3 separate regions of the Homo sapiens genome follow, and regions 1 and 2 are each linked to region 3. The links come from fine-mapping of genetic effects on gene expression. A gene starts in region 3. Each other region holds a variant in brackets. All regions are shown on one strand. Distances are between the middles of the regions. Region 1 has its middle 29 kb from the start of LAS1L. Region 2 has its middle 220 kb from the start of MTMR8. Region 3 holds the start of LAS1L (LAS1 like ribosome biogenesis factor).

What was found. PIP is the estimated chance that this variant, and not a neighbour inherited with it, causes the effect.
Region 1: its variant is the best candidate, but not a certain one, in a credible set for the expression of LAS1L in whole blood (TOPMed, PIP 0.87).
Region 2: its variant is the best candidate, but not a certain one, in a credible set for the expression of LAS1L in tibial nerve (GTEx, PIP 0.68).

Annotation. Positions count from the first base shown.
Region 1 is chrX:65,561,832-65,566,075 of GRCh38, reverse strand. No RefSeq gene overlaps it. Among named protein-coding and RNA genes, the nearest start is that of LAS1L, 29 kb to the right of the region's middle. The variant G/T (reference allele first, on the strand shown) is at 2,465.
Region 2 is chrX:64,616,643-64,620,886 of GRCh38, reverse strand. No RefSeq gene overlaps it. Among named protein-coding and RNA genes, the nearest start is that of MTMR8, 220 kb to the right of the region's middle. The variant T/C (reference allele first, on the strand shown) is at 1,835.
Region 3 is chrX:65,532,758-65,536,994 of GRCh38, reverse strand. LAS1L (LAS1 like ribosome biogenesis factor) reads left to right here and starts at 2,208. Exons shown (of 14, transcript NM_031206.7): 1 at 2,208-2,515; 2 at 3,260-3,385. The coding sequence starts at 2,280. RefSeq lists an enhancer at 1,934-2,113.

The DNA of each region.
Region 1 (4,244 bases), 29 kb before region 3:
GCACAACTACTGGAAACTGAACAACCTGCTGCTGAATTACTACTGGGTAAATAATGAAATTAAGGCAGAAATAAATAAATTCTTTGAAACCAATGAGACCAAAGATACAACGTACCAGAATCTCTGGAACACAGCTCAAGTAGTGTTTAGAGGGAAATTTATAGCACTAAATGCCTACAAGAGAAAGCAGGAAAGATCTAAAGTTGACACCCTAACATCACAATTAAAAGAACTAGAGAATCAAGAGCAAACAAATTCAAAAGTTAGCAGAAGACAAGAAATAACTAAGATCAGAGCAGAACTGAAGGATATAGATACACAAAAAAAACCCTTCAAAATATCAATGAATCCAGGAGCTGGTTTTGTGAAAAGATCAACAAAATAGATAGACTGCTAGCCAGAATAATGAAGAAGAAGAGAGAGAAGGAGCTGTTATCATTCCTTCTGAAACTATTCCAAACAATAGCAAAAGAGGGACTCCTCCCTAACTCATTTGATGATGCCAGCATCATGCTTATACCAAAACCTGGCAGAGACACAACAAAAAAAAGAAAATTTCAGGCCAATATCCCTGATGAATATCGATGCAAAAATCTTCAATAAAATACTGGCAAACCGAATCCAGCAGCACATCAAAAAGCTTATCCACCATGACCAAGTCGGCTTCATCCCTAGGATGGAAGGCTGGTTCAACATCCACAAATCAATAACTGTAATCCACCACATAAACAGTACCAATGACAAAAACCACATGATTATCTCAAAAGATGCAGTAAAGGCCTTTGACAAAATTCAACACCTTTTCATGCTACAAACTCTCAATAAACTAGGTGTTGATGGAATGTATCTCAAAATAATAAGAGCTATTTATGACAAACCCACAGCCATCATCATACTGAATGGGCAAAAACTGGAAGCATTCCCTTTGAAAACTGGCACAAGACAGGGATGCTCTCTCTCACCACTCCTCTTCAACCTAATATTGGAAGTTCTGGCCAGGGCAATCAGGCAAGATAAAGAAATAAAGGGTACTCAAACAGGAAGAGAGGAAGTCAAATTGTCTCTGTTTTGTAGATGACATGATTGTATATTTAGAAAACCCCATCATCTCAGCCCAAAATATTTTTAAGCTGATAAGCAAATTCAGCAAAGTCTCAGGATACAAAATTAATGTGCAAAAATCACAAACATACCTATACATCAGTAATAGACAGAGAGCCAAATCATGAATGAACTCCCATTCACAACATTCACAATTGCTACTAAGAGAATAAAATACTTAGGAATACAACTTACAAGGGATGTGAAGGACCTCTTCAAGGAGAACTACAAACCACTGCTCAACAAATTAAAGAAGGACACAAACAAATGGAAAAACATTCCATGTTCATGGATAGGAGGAATCAATATCGTGAAAATGGCCATAATGACCAAAGTAATTTATAGATTCAATGCTATCCCCATCAAGCTACAATTGACTTTCTTCACACAATTAGAAAAATACTACTTTAAATTTCATATGGAACCAAAAAAGAGCCCACATAGCAGACAATCCTAAGCAAGAAGAACAAAGCTGGAGGCATCACGCTACCTGACTTCAAACTATACTACGAGTCTACAGTAACCAAAACCACATGGTACTGGTACCAAAACAGATATATAGACCAATGGAACAGAATAGAGGCCTCAGAAATAACACCACACATCTACAACCATCTGACCTTTGGTAAACCTGACAAAAACAAGCAATAGGAAAAGGATTCCCTATTTAATAAATGGTGTTGGGAAAACTGGTAAGCCATATACGGAAAAATGAAACTGGACCCCTTCTTTACACCTTATACAAAAATTAACTCAAGATGGATTAAAGACTTAAATGTAAGACCTAAAACCATAAAAACCCTAGAAGAAATCCAAGGCAATACCATTCAGGACACAGGCATGGACAAAAACTTCATGACTAAAACATCAAAAGCAATGGCAACAAAAGCCAAAATTGACAAATGGGATGTAATTAAACTAAAGAGCTTCTGCACAGCAAAAGAAACTATCATCAGAGTGAACAGGCAACCTACAGAATGGGAGAAAATTTTTGCAATCTATCCATCTGACAAAGGCTAATATCCAGAATCTACAAAGAACTTAAACAAATTTACAAGAAAAAAAACAAACAACCCCAACAAAAAGTGGGCGAAGGATATGAACAGACATTTCTCAAAAGAAGACATTTATTTTTATTTTATTTTATTTTATTTATTTATTTTTTGAGATGGAGTGTCACTCTGTCACCCAGGCTGGAATGCAGTGGTGCAATCTTGGCTCACTGCAACCTCCACCCACCCAGGGTTCAAGTGATTCTCCTACCTCAGCCTCCCAAGTAGTGGGGATTAGAGGTGCCTGCCACCATGCCTGGCTAATTTTTGTATTTTTAGTAGAGACGCGGTTTCAGCATCTTGGCCAGGCT[G/T]GTCTTGAACTCCTGACCTCGTGATCCACCCACCTCAGGCTCCCAAAGTGCTGGGATTACAGGCGTGAGCCACCACACCCAGCAAAAGAAGACATTTATACAGCCAACAAACATGAAAAAAAAGGGTCATCATCACTGGTCATTAGAGAAATGTAAATCAAAATCACAATGAGATATCATCTTATGCCAGTTAGAAAGGGGATCATTAAAATGTCAGGAAACAACAGATGCTGGAGAGGATGTGGAGAAATAGGAATGCTTTTACACTGCTGGTGGGAGTGCAAGTTAGTTCAAACATTGTGGAAGACAGTGTGGCGATTCCTCAAAGATCTAGAAACAGAAATACCATTTGACCCAGCAATCCCATTACTGAGTATATACCAAGAGGTTTATGAATCATTCTACTATAAAGACACATGCACATGTATGTTTATTGTGGCACTGTTCACAATAGCAAAGACTTGGAACCAACCCAAATGTCCATCAATGATAGACTAGATAAAGAAAATGTGGCACACATACACCATGGAATACTATGCAGCCATAAAAAAGGATGAGTTCAAGTCCTTTGCAGGGACATGGATGAAGCTGGAAACCATCATTCTTACCAAACTAACACAAGAACATAAAACCAAACACCTCACGTTCTCACTCATAAGTGGGAGTTGAACAATGAGAACACATGGACACAGGGTGGGGAACATCACACACTGGGGCCTGTCAGGGGGTAGGGGGCTAGAGGAGGGATAGCACTAGGAGAGATACCTAATGTAGATGACAGGTTGATGGGTGCAGCAAACCACCATGGCACATGTATACCTATGTAACAAACCTGCAAGTTCTGCACATATACTCCAGAACTTAAAGTATAAGAAGAAGAAGAAAATTAAAAAAGAAGAAAGAGTATGAACATGGCCAGCCATGGTGACACACGCCTGTAATTCCAGCACTTTGGGAGGCCGAGGCGAGCGGATCACCTGAGGTCAGGAGTTCAAGACCAGCCTGGCCAACATGGTGAAACCCCATCTCTATTAAAAATAAAAAAAAATTAGCCAGACATGGTGGTGCACACCTGTAATCCTAGCTACTGGGAGGCTGAGGCAGGAGAATCACTTGAAGCTGGGAGGCGGAGGTCGCAGTGAATTGAGATCACGTCACTGCACTCCAGCCTGGGCGACAAAGAAAGACTCCATCTCAAAAAAACAAAACAAAACAAAACAAAACAAATGTGAACATGAACAGGTTTTGTTGGATAAAATGCCCACTACTCATAGGAAGGGTTGTTGTGAACAGTATCCTTTTGATCCTTTCCTGGCCAGGCCCTGGTCCTTGTTTTCGCCTAGGTCAAGACTCAAATCCCAGCCTTCAAGCCTACAACTTGAACCAGCCTCTGACAGATGGATAAGATGCTTCAGCTCAGAGTGTATGTGTAGGGGAAAGGCGTGTACAGGCAAGGGAGGAATATCCTCCTGAAGACTAGGAAGATGGATATCAATCTTACTATTTTCTCTATTTATTTATTTATTTATTTATTTATTTATTTATTTAGAGATGGACTTTCGCTTTTGTTGCCCAGGCTGGAGTGCAATGGCACGATCTCAGCTCACCGAAACTGCCGCCTTCCGGATTCAAGTGATTCTCCTGCCTCAGCCTCCCAAGTAGCTGGGATTACAGGAATGCACCACCATGCCTGGATAATTTTGTATTTTTAGTAGAGACGAGGTTTCTCCATGTTGGTCAGGCTGGTCTCGAACTCCCGACCTCAGGTGATCCGCCCGCC
Region 2 (4,244 bases), 920 kb after region 3:
TTCCGTGTGATCTAAGATTAGTTGTCATATCTTTTAAATAACTTGTATTTATAAGGTGCTTTTCTTGTAAGCTTCATGATACTCACAGTACAAAACTCTATAACAGATTCACTAAAAATAAAAAGCAACACTTTAAAACATACTACCAGAAATAATCACTTAACTGCAAAGTAAGACATAAATAAAGGATGAAAGTAAGAGAGGAGTCTCAAAACAACGAGAATACAAGCAACAAAATGGTAGTAGTAAGTCCTTTCTTATCAATAGTAACAATGAATGTGATGGTCTCCATTTTGCAATTAAAAGACACAGAGTGGTTGAGTGTACAAAGATACAAGATCCAACTACATCCTGCCTTCATGAAACCCACTTCACCTATAAACACATAAAATGAAGGTGAAGGAGTAGAAAAGATATTTTATACAACTAGAAATTAAAAAAAAAAAGGCCCAGGCACAGTAGCACACGCCTGTAATCCCAAGCTATTTGGGTGGCTGATGCAGGAGAATTGCTTGAACCTGGGAGGCAGACGTTGCAGTGAGCTGAGATTCAGCCTGGGTGACAAGAGCGAAACTCCATCTCCAAGAAAAAAAAAAAAAAAAAAAGAAAAAATAAACCAATAAAAGAGCAGTAGCAGCTATATTCATATCAGATAAAATATATTACAAATCAAACACTGTATAAAAAAACAAGTCACTATATAATGATAAAGGGGTCAATTCAGCAAGAACATAAATATTATAAATATCTATGCATCCAATATCAGAGTTCCCAAGTACATAAGCAAAGATTAATAGACCTAAAGAGAGATAGACTACAATACAATAATAGTAGGGACCTTTAATACCTCACTCTCCGTAATTGACAGATCATCAATACATAAAAGCAGACTTCATCCAGACAGAAAAGTAACAAAGAAACAGCGGAGTTAAACTACACATTAGATATAATAGGCTTAACTGACATTTACAAAACATTTCACTCAACTGCTGCAGAATACACATTATTTTCAGCAGCACATGGAACATTCTTCAGAATAGACCATATATTAGGCCACAAACAAGTCTGAACAATGTTTTAAATAAAAATCCTATCAAATATCTTTTCTGACCACAATGGAATAAAATTAGAAATCAATAACAAGAGAAACCTCAGAAAATACACAAACACATGTAAATTAAACAATATGCTCCTGAACAACTGAAGGGTCAATAAAGAAATTAAGAAGGAAATTTGATCATGGTGGATAAAGTTTTTGATGTGCTGCTGAATTTGGTTTGCCAGTATTTTATGAGGATTTTTGCAACAATGTTCATCAAGGATATTGGTCTAAAATTCTCTTTTTTGGTTGTGTCTCTGCCCGCCTTTGGTATCAGGATGATGCTGGCCTCGTAAAATCAGTTAGGGAGGACTCCCTCTTTTTCTATTGATTGGAATAGTTTCAGAAGGAATGGTACCAGTTCCTCCTTGTACCTCTGGTAGAATTCGGCTGTGAATCCATCTCATCCTGCACTCTTTTTGGTTGGTAAGGTATTGATTATTGCCACAATTTCAGATCCTGTTATTGGTCTATTCAGAAATTCAAATTCTTCCTGGTTTAGTCTTGGGAGAGTGTATGTGTGGAGGAATTTATCCATTTCTTCTAGATTTTCTAGTTTATTTGCGTAGAGGTGTTTGTAGTATTCTCTGATGGTAGTTTGTATTTCTGTGGGATTGGTGTTGATATCCCCTTTATCATTTTTTATTACATCTATTTGATTCTTCTCTCTTTTTTTCTTTATTAGTCTTGCTAGCGGTCTATCAATTTTGTTGATCCTTTCAAAAAACCAGCTCC[T/C]GGATTCATTAATTTTTTGAAGGGTTTTTTGTGTCTGTATTTCCTTCAGTTCTGCTCTGATTTTAGTTATTTCTTGCCTTCTGCTAGCTTTTGAATGTGTTTCATCCCTGGGATGCAAGGCTGGTTCAATATATGCAAATCAATAAATGTAATCCAGCATATAAACAGAACCAAAGACAAAAAAACACATGATTATCTCAATAGATGAAGAAAAGGCCTTTGAAAAAATTCAACAACACTTCATGCTAAAAACTCTCAATAAATTAGGTATTGATGGGACGTATCTCAAAATAATAAGAGCTATCTATGACAAACCCACAGACAATATCATACTGAATGAGCAAAAACTGGAAGCATTCCCTTTGAAAACTGGCACAACACAGGGATGCTCTCTCTCACCACTCCTATTCAACATAGTGTTGGAAGTTCTGGCCAGGGCAACCAGGCAGGAGAAGGAAATAAAGGGTATTCAATTAGGAAAAGAGGAAGTCAAATTGTCCCTGTTTGCAGACAACATGATTGTATATCTAGAAAACCCCATTGTCTCAGCCCAAAATCTCCTTAAGGTGATAAGCAACTTCAGCAAAGTCTCAGGATACAAAACCAATGTGCAAAAATCACAAGCATTCTTATATACCAACAACAGACAAACAGAGAGCCAAATCATGAGTGAACTCCCATTCACAATTGCTTCAAAGAGAATAAAATACCCAGGAATCCAACTTACAAGGGATGTGAAAGACCTCTTCAAGGAGAACTACAAACCACTGCTCAATGAAATAAAAGAGGATACAAACAAATGGAAGAACATTCCATGCTCATGGGTAGGAAGAATCAATATCGTGAAAATGGCCATACTGCCCAAGGTAATTTACAGATTCAATGCCATCCCCATCAAGCTACCAATGACTTTCTTCACAGAATTGGAAAAAAACTACTTTAAAGTTCATATGGAACCAAAAAAGAGCCCGCATCACCAAGTCAATCCTAAGCCAAAAGAACAAAGCTGGAGGCATCACACTACCTGACTTCAAACTATACTACAAGGCTACAGTAACCAAAACAGCATGGTACTGTTACCAAAACAGAGATATAGATCAGAGAATCTGATCAGAACAGATCAGAGGAACAGAACAGAGCCCTCAGAAATAATGCCACATATCTACAACTATCTGATCTTTGACAAACCTGAGAAAAACAAGCGATGGGGAAAGGATTCCCTATTTAATAAATGGTGCCGGGAAAACTGGCTAGCCAGATGTAGTAAGCTGAAACTGGATCCCTTCCTTACACCTTATACAAAAATCAATTCAAGATGGATTAAAGACTTAAATGTTAGACCTAAAACCATAAAATCCCTAGAAGAAAACCTAGGCAATACCATTCAGGACATAGGCTTGGGCAAGGACTTCATGTCTAAAACACCAAAAGCAATGGCAACAAAAGCCAAAATTGACAAATGGGATCTAATTAAACTAAAGAGCTTCTGCACAGCAAAAGAAACTACCATCGGAGTGAACAGGCAACCTATAAAATGGGAGAAAATTTTCACAACCTACTCATCTGACAAAGGGCTAATATCTAGAATCTACAATGAACTCAAACAAATTTACAAGAAAAAAACAAACAACCCCATCAAAAAGTGGGCGAAGGACATGAACAGACACTTCTCAAAAGAAGACATTTATGCAGCCAAAAAACACATGAAAAAATTCTTACCATCACTGGCCATCAGAGAAATGCAAATCAAAACCAAATTGAGATACCATCTCATACCAGTTAGAATGGCAATCATTAAAAAGTCAGGAAACAACAGGTGCTGGAGAGGATGTGGAGAAATAGGAACACTTTTACACTGTTGGTGGGACTGTAAACTAGTTCAACCATTGTGGAAGTCAGTGTGGTGATTCCTCAGGGATCTAGAACTAGAAATACCATTTGACCCAGCCATCCCATTACTGGGTATATACCCAAAGGACTATGAATCATGCTGCTATAAAGACACATGCACATGTATTTTTATTGTGGCATTATTCACAATAGCAAAGACTTGGAACCAAGCCAAATGTCCAACAATGATAGACTGGATTAAGAAAATGTGGCACATATACACCATGGAATACTATGCAGCCATATAAAATGATGAGTTCATGTCCTTTGTAGGGACATGGATGAAATTGGAAATCATCATTCCCAGTAAACTATCTCAAGAACAAAAAAACAAACACTGCATATTCTCACTCATGTGGGAATTGAACAATGAGAACACATGGACACAGGAAGGGGAACATCACACTCTGAGGACTGTTGTGGGGTGGGGGGAGGGAGGAGGGATAGCATTCGAGATATACCTAATGCTAGATGACGAGTTAGTGGGTGCAGCGCACCAGCATGGCACATGTATACATAT
Region 3 (4,237 bases):
TTCAGCTCAGTGATACTGTTATCAAACTTTTGGCCTCCAGAACTACGAGAAAATAAATGTCTGTTGTTTTAAACCACCAAGTTTGTGGTAATTTGCTATAGCAACAACAGGAAACTAACGCAGTGCTTCTTCAAAATTACCACTATTTGACACACTTCGTCCACTAATTCCTAATTCTCAATAGGTCTCAGGCCCCATTTGCCACATATTAGACATAATGCTCTTGTTACATGCTTTGGTCATGTTTTCTTAGAACACACGGAATAGAGAGAACTTCAGCTTTATGTGGATGGAATGGGGATAAATAGGGGTCTTTGCCTGAAAAGGACTATGCAAAATTTTTAGCCTATAAACCCCAAAATGTGTGTGAATGATTGCCGCAGATCTGGCAGCTCCTCTGACTGGCCTGTATCTTGAGGAGTCATAGAAACCACTCCCCAGACTTCTTTGCCAGCACACTGTCATGATCCTGAAGGAAAAAGGGTATCTGGTTTCAGGCAGACACCTGGCCAACTGGTTGGCATGGCTACTTGGGACAGAGTAACTGTCAGTCAAGAACCATAGGCAGGCCGGGCACGGTGGCTCATGCCTGTAATCCTAGCACTTTGGGAGGCCTGGGCTGGTGGATCACTTGAGGTCAGGAGTTCCAGACCAGCCTGGCCAACATGGTGAAACCCTGTCTCTACTAACAATACAAAAATTAGCCAAGCATAGTGGCAGGCGCCTGTAATCCCAGCTACTTGGAAGGCTGAGGCAAGAGAATCACTTGAACCCTGGAGGTAGAGGTTGCAGTGAGCCGAGAATTGTGCCACTGCACTCCAGCCTGGGCGACTGGGCCAGACGCCATGTCAAAAAAAAAAAGAAAAAGAAAAAAAGAAAAATAAAATAACTATAGGCAGACTATATCTTAGGAAAAGTTGGCTGGAGAAAGAAGCACATATAGAGGATGAATTGGGATTTGTTGCTGTGAAGCGTAAAAGTGCCACTCACAGCAATGCTGTTAAGATCGTTAGCAACAGTTCTCTCTCTCTCTCTCTCAAGTGTTACATTGGAAAATAACTTCTGCAAGAAGGATTGGGACATAGTCCTAAACATATTTCAGTCAACTCGTAAAATCGGAGGAACTTCATAATACCGCTTTTCTCCCAGAACTCCAAAATACCAAGGAATTTTGCAGAAAAACTAAGTATACCTTGGTGGATGTTGAAACCAACATAGCAGTGGAATGTTGGCAGAGTAAAATTCTACAATTTTCTGCTATGACAGAGAACCTAGAGACCAGTCTACAACTCTCACTGTACAGATGGGAAAACTGAGACTAGTCTAAGTCCACATAGTTAGTGGCAAAATTTAGAGTAAAACTCAGGTCTCTAGGCTGGTATTTATTTATTTATTTATGTATGTATTTATTTAATTTACTTTTGAGACAGAGTCTCGATCTGTCACCCAGGGTGGAGTGCACTGGTGCGATCTTGGCTTGTTGCAGCCTCCGCCTCCCGGATTCAAGCGATTCTTGTGCCTCAGCCTCCTGAGTAACTGGGATTACAGGCATGTGCAACCATGCTTAGCTAATTTTTGTATTTTTACTAGAGACCGGGTTTCACCATTTTGGCCAGGCTGGTCTGGAACTCCTGACCTCAAGTGATCCGCCCGCCTGGGCCTCCCAATGTGCTGGGATTACAGGCGTGAGCCACCACGCCTGGCCAGGCTGGTACTAATTTAAAAGGCAGGGCCCCTGGTTACCTGCCACAAAAGCAGATTTTTTCAACCCAACTGTAACTGTTTCGATATGAGATATTTCCTCTGTAGCCCTGCTTCAGTGTCCAGTGTTTTACTAGGTTAGGTCCTGATTCACGGCAATAAAAATATACTTAAAATCGCATTTTCAGTTCACTGGATGACTACAATCAAGCTGCCACCCGCCGAGGGGAGCAAAATAAAATTCCTCTTGCAGTGAAGACATACCGCTTCCGGTCTGGTACAGAAGCCGGTTAGCAACCAGGAAATTGGCGGAACCTAGAGGCTGAACTCTTGCCCCTGGAGGGTTTGCTTTGTGAAAAGAACACTTCCGGCCGGTGAGTTTTTAACCCCGCATGTCATTAGGTCGGCGCCCAATTCTGACGTTCCGATTGGCCATGCTGACGCTGGAAGGCGGGCTTGCGTATGGGGTCACGCTCTCCTATTGGCTGCTGGTGCGGTGGCGGTTCGGAGTGAGGGTAGCACGCTGAGCTGAAGGCTGTGCGGAGCGGCGCGGCACAGAGCCTGTTGTTGAGCTCAGTATGTCGTGGGAATCCGGGGCCGGGCCAGGTCTAGGTTCCCAGGGGATGGATCTCGTGTGGAGTGCGTGGTACGGAAAGTGCGTTAAAGGGAAAGGGTCGTTGCCACTCTCGGCCCACGGCATCGTGGTCGCCTGGCTCAGCAGGGCCGAGTGGGACCAGGTGACGGTTTATCTGTTCTGTGACGACCATAAGTTGCAGCGGTACGCGCTTAACCGCATCACGGTGTGGAGGAGCAGGTAAGGTGGCGGGTTCGGCCCTTTTGCCTGCGTGCTGGTGGCGCTGCACCTCTTCCTTTGTCGAGTTTCTATAAGGCCCTGTTCTCCAGTCTTCCCCTAAGTCGCCTAAAGTTGTCCCTCTCCCAAATGCCTGGGGGAACGCGGCAGCCATCTCTTGCGCTAATCCCGTTAGCGGAATGGAAAGTAAGGGGTTGTGCCTCAACAATTCTCTTGTTATATCTGTGAGGTTTACCCATTACCTCCAAAAAGTGACTTTCTCCCAACTTGGAGAGGATGCCGGAGGGACTAGTGAGGCCTGAGCCAGGGCTTAAGGAGTAGATTAGTACCCTAGGGTAGATTTCCGATTCCAATGGGGAGGAAGTCTTGCCTGCAAGACAGTGTTTGAGTGGGGCGCCTCAGTCCAGTTGGTAAGATTGAGTTGGGAGCCGACTTACAAGGGATAAGGGGCTCCTCTAGCTCAATGAGTTGATTTGGGGGTGAAAGAAAGGGGTGTGTCCACACAACTGTTGATGGACAGTCTACCAGTTAGGTGTCCTGTATACGGCCTAGTCAGCTCCTCATGCCCTGTATACTGTTGGATCCCACAGACATTACCGTGTCTCCTCCCACCTTCTTGTTTTGTGTCTGTTCATGCTCTCTTGAACCAGAATATGATGGGTGTAGCCTGCAACAACCTAGGTTCTGAGGTGGAGGGTGGACCAGTGTAAGGGCTCTTTATGATGGTGCTGGACTGTGACCCTTTAGGTCAGGCAACGAACTCCCTCTGGCAGTGGCTTCTACTGCTGACCTGATACGCTGTAAGCTCTTGGATGTAACTGGTGGCTTGGGCACTGATGAACTTAGACTGCTCTATGGCATGGCATTGGTCAGGTAAGACCTGCATGGGGTAGGGGTGGAGGTTGGCTTTGGGGACTGGAGGCAGGGGAGGCATGTGATAAGCAAAACTTGGCTTCAGGTGTTACCTGAAGCAAAACCCTGCGTGTACCTCACTGTGGATCAGCCTGTGATTATTGCTTGACTTATCAGCTTTTGGTACCCTCGTCAACGCATTCCTCTTTTTCTTCCTTTTTCCTGAAAGCCTTCTCTTCCATTTTTCTTTCTATCTTGGAATGTGGAGGAAGGGATTCAGACCAGGTGATCTCTGTGGGTCTCTTGGTGGTCTGATATTTTTTCTTACCTTTGAATTCCTCACCCAGAGGAACTTGTCTGAATGGCTCAGGGTCCTCGCCTGTGATTTAATGTGGACTTTCCAACCCTGTCCCTGTCTATTCCTAGCACTACCCTTTTCCCCTTCTCTCCCTCATGAACACTGAAAGATTGCTGAGTTATGGAAGTGGAGACATGGGCTGGGAATTCCTGACTTACAAAGTGACTCATAATGGTTCTAGCTGTATACACGTCGGAAAAAAAGGTTGCTACTGAGTTTTCATATCTGTCAAAGTCTTTGCTTATCTATTTCCCCTTGTCTGCCTTGAGATCCTCCCTTTCTCTTCTTATTTTCTCCATTGGTTAGCTGTGCTCCCCATTATCTGATGTAGTCCTTTGCAGCATTTATAACATATTATGTTCTAGCCTAATATGTTACATTGTATCATTATTATTTATCCTAGACCGAACTGTTCAAGGCTAGAGCAGTGTCTTATTCATCTGTATGGCTTCATTATAGGGCAGACTCTCATTAAATGTTGGAATGGATGGAACTGTCCCTGCTCTGGCTGACAC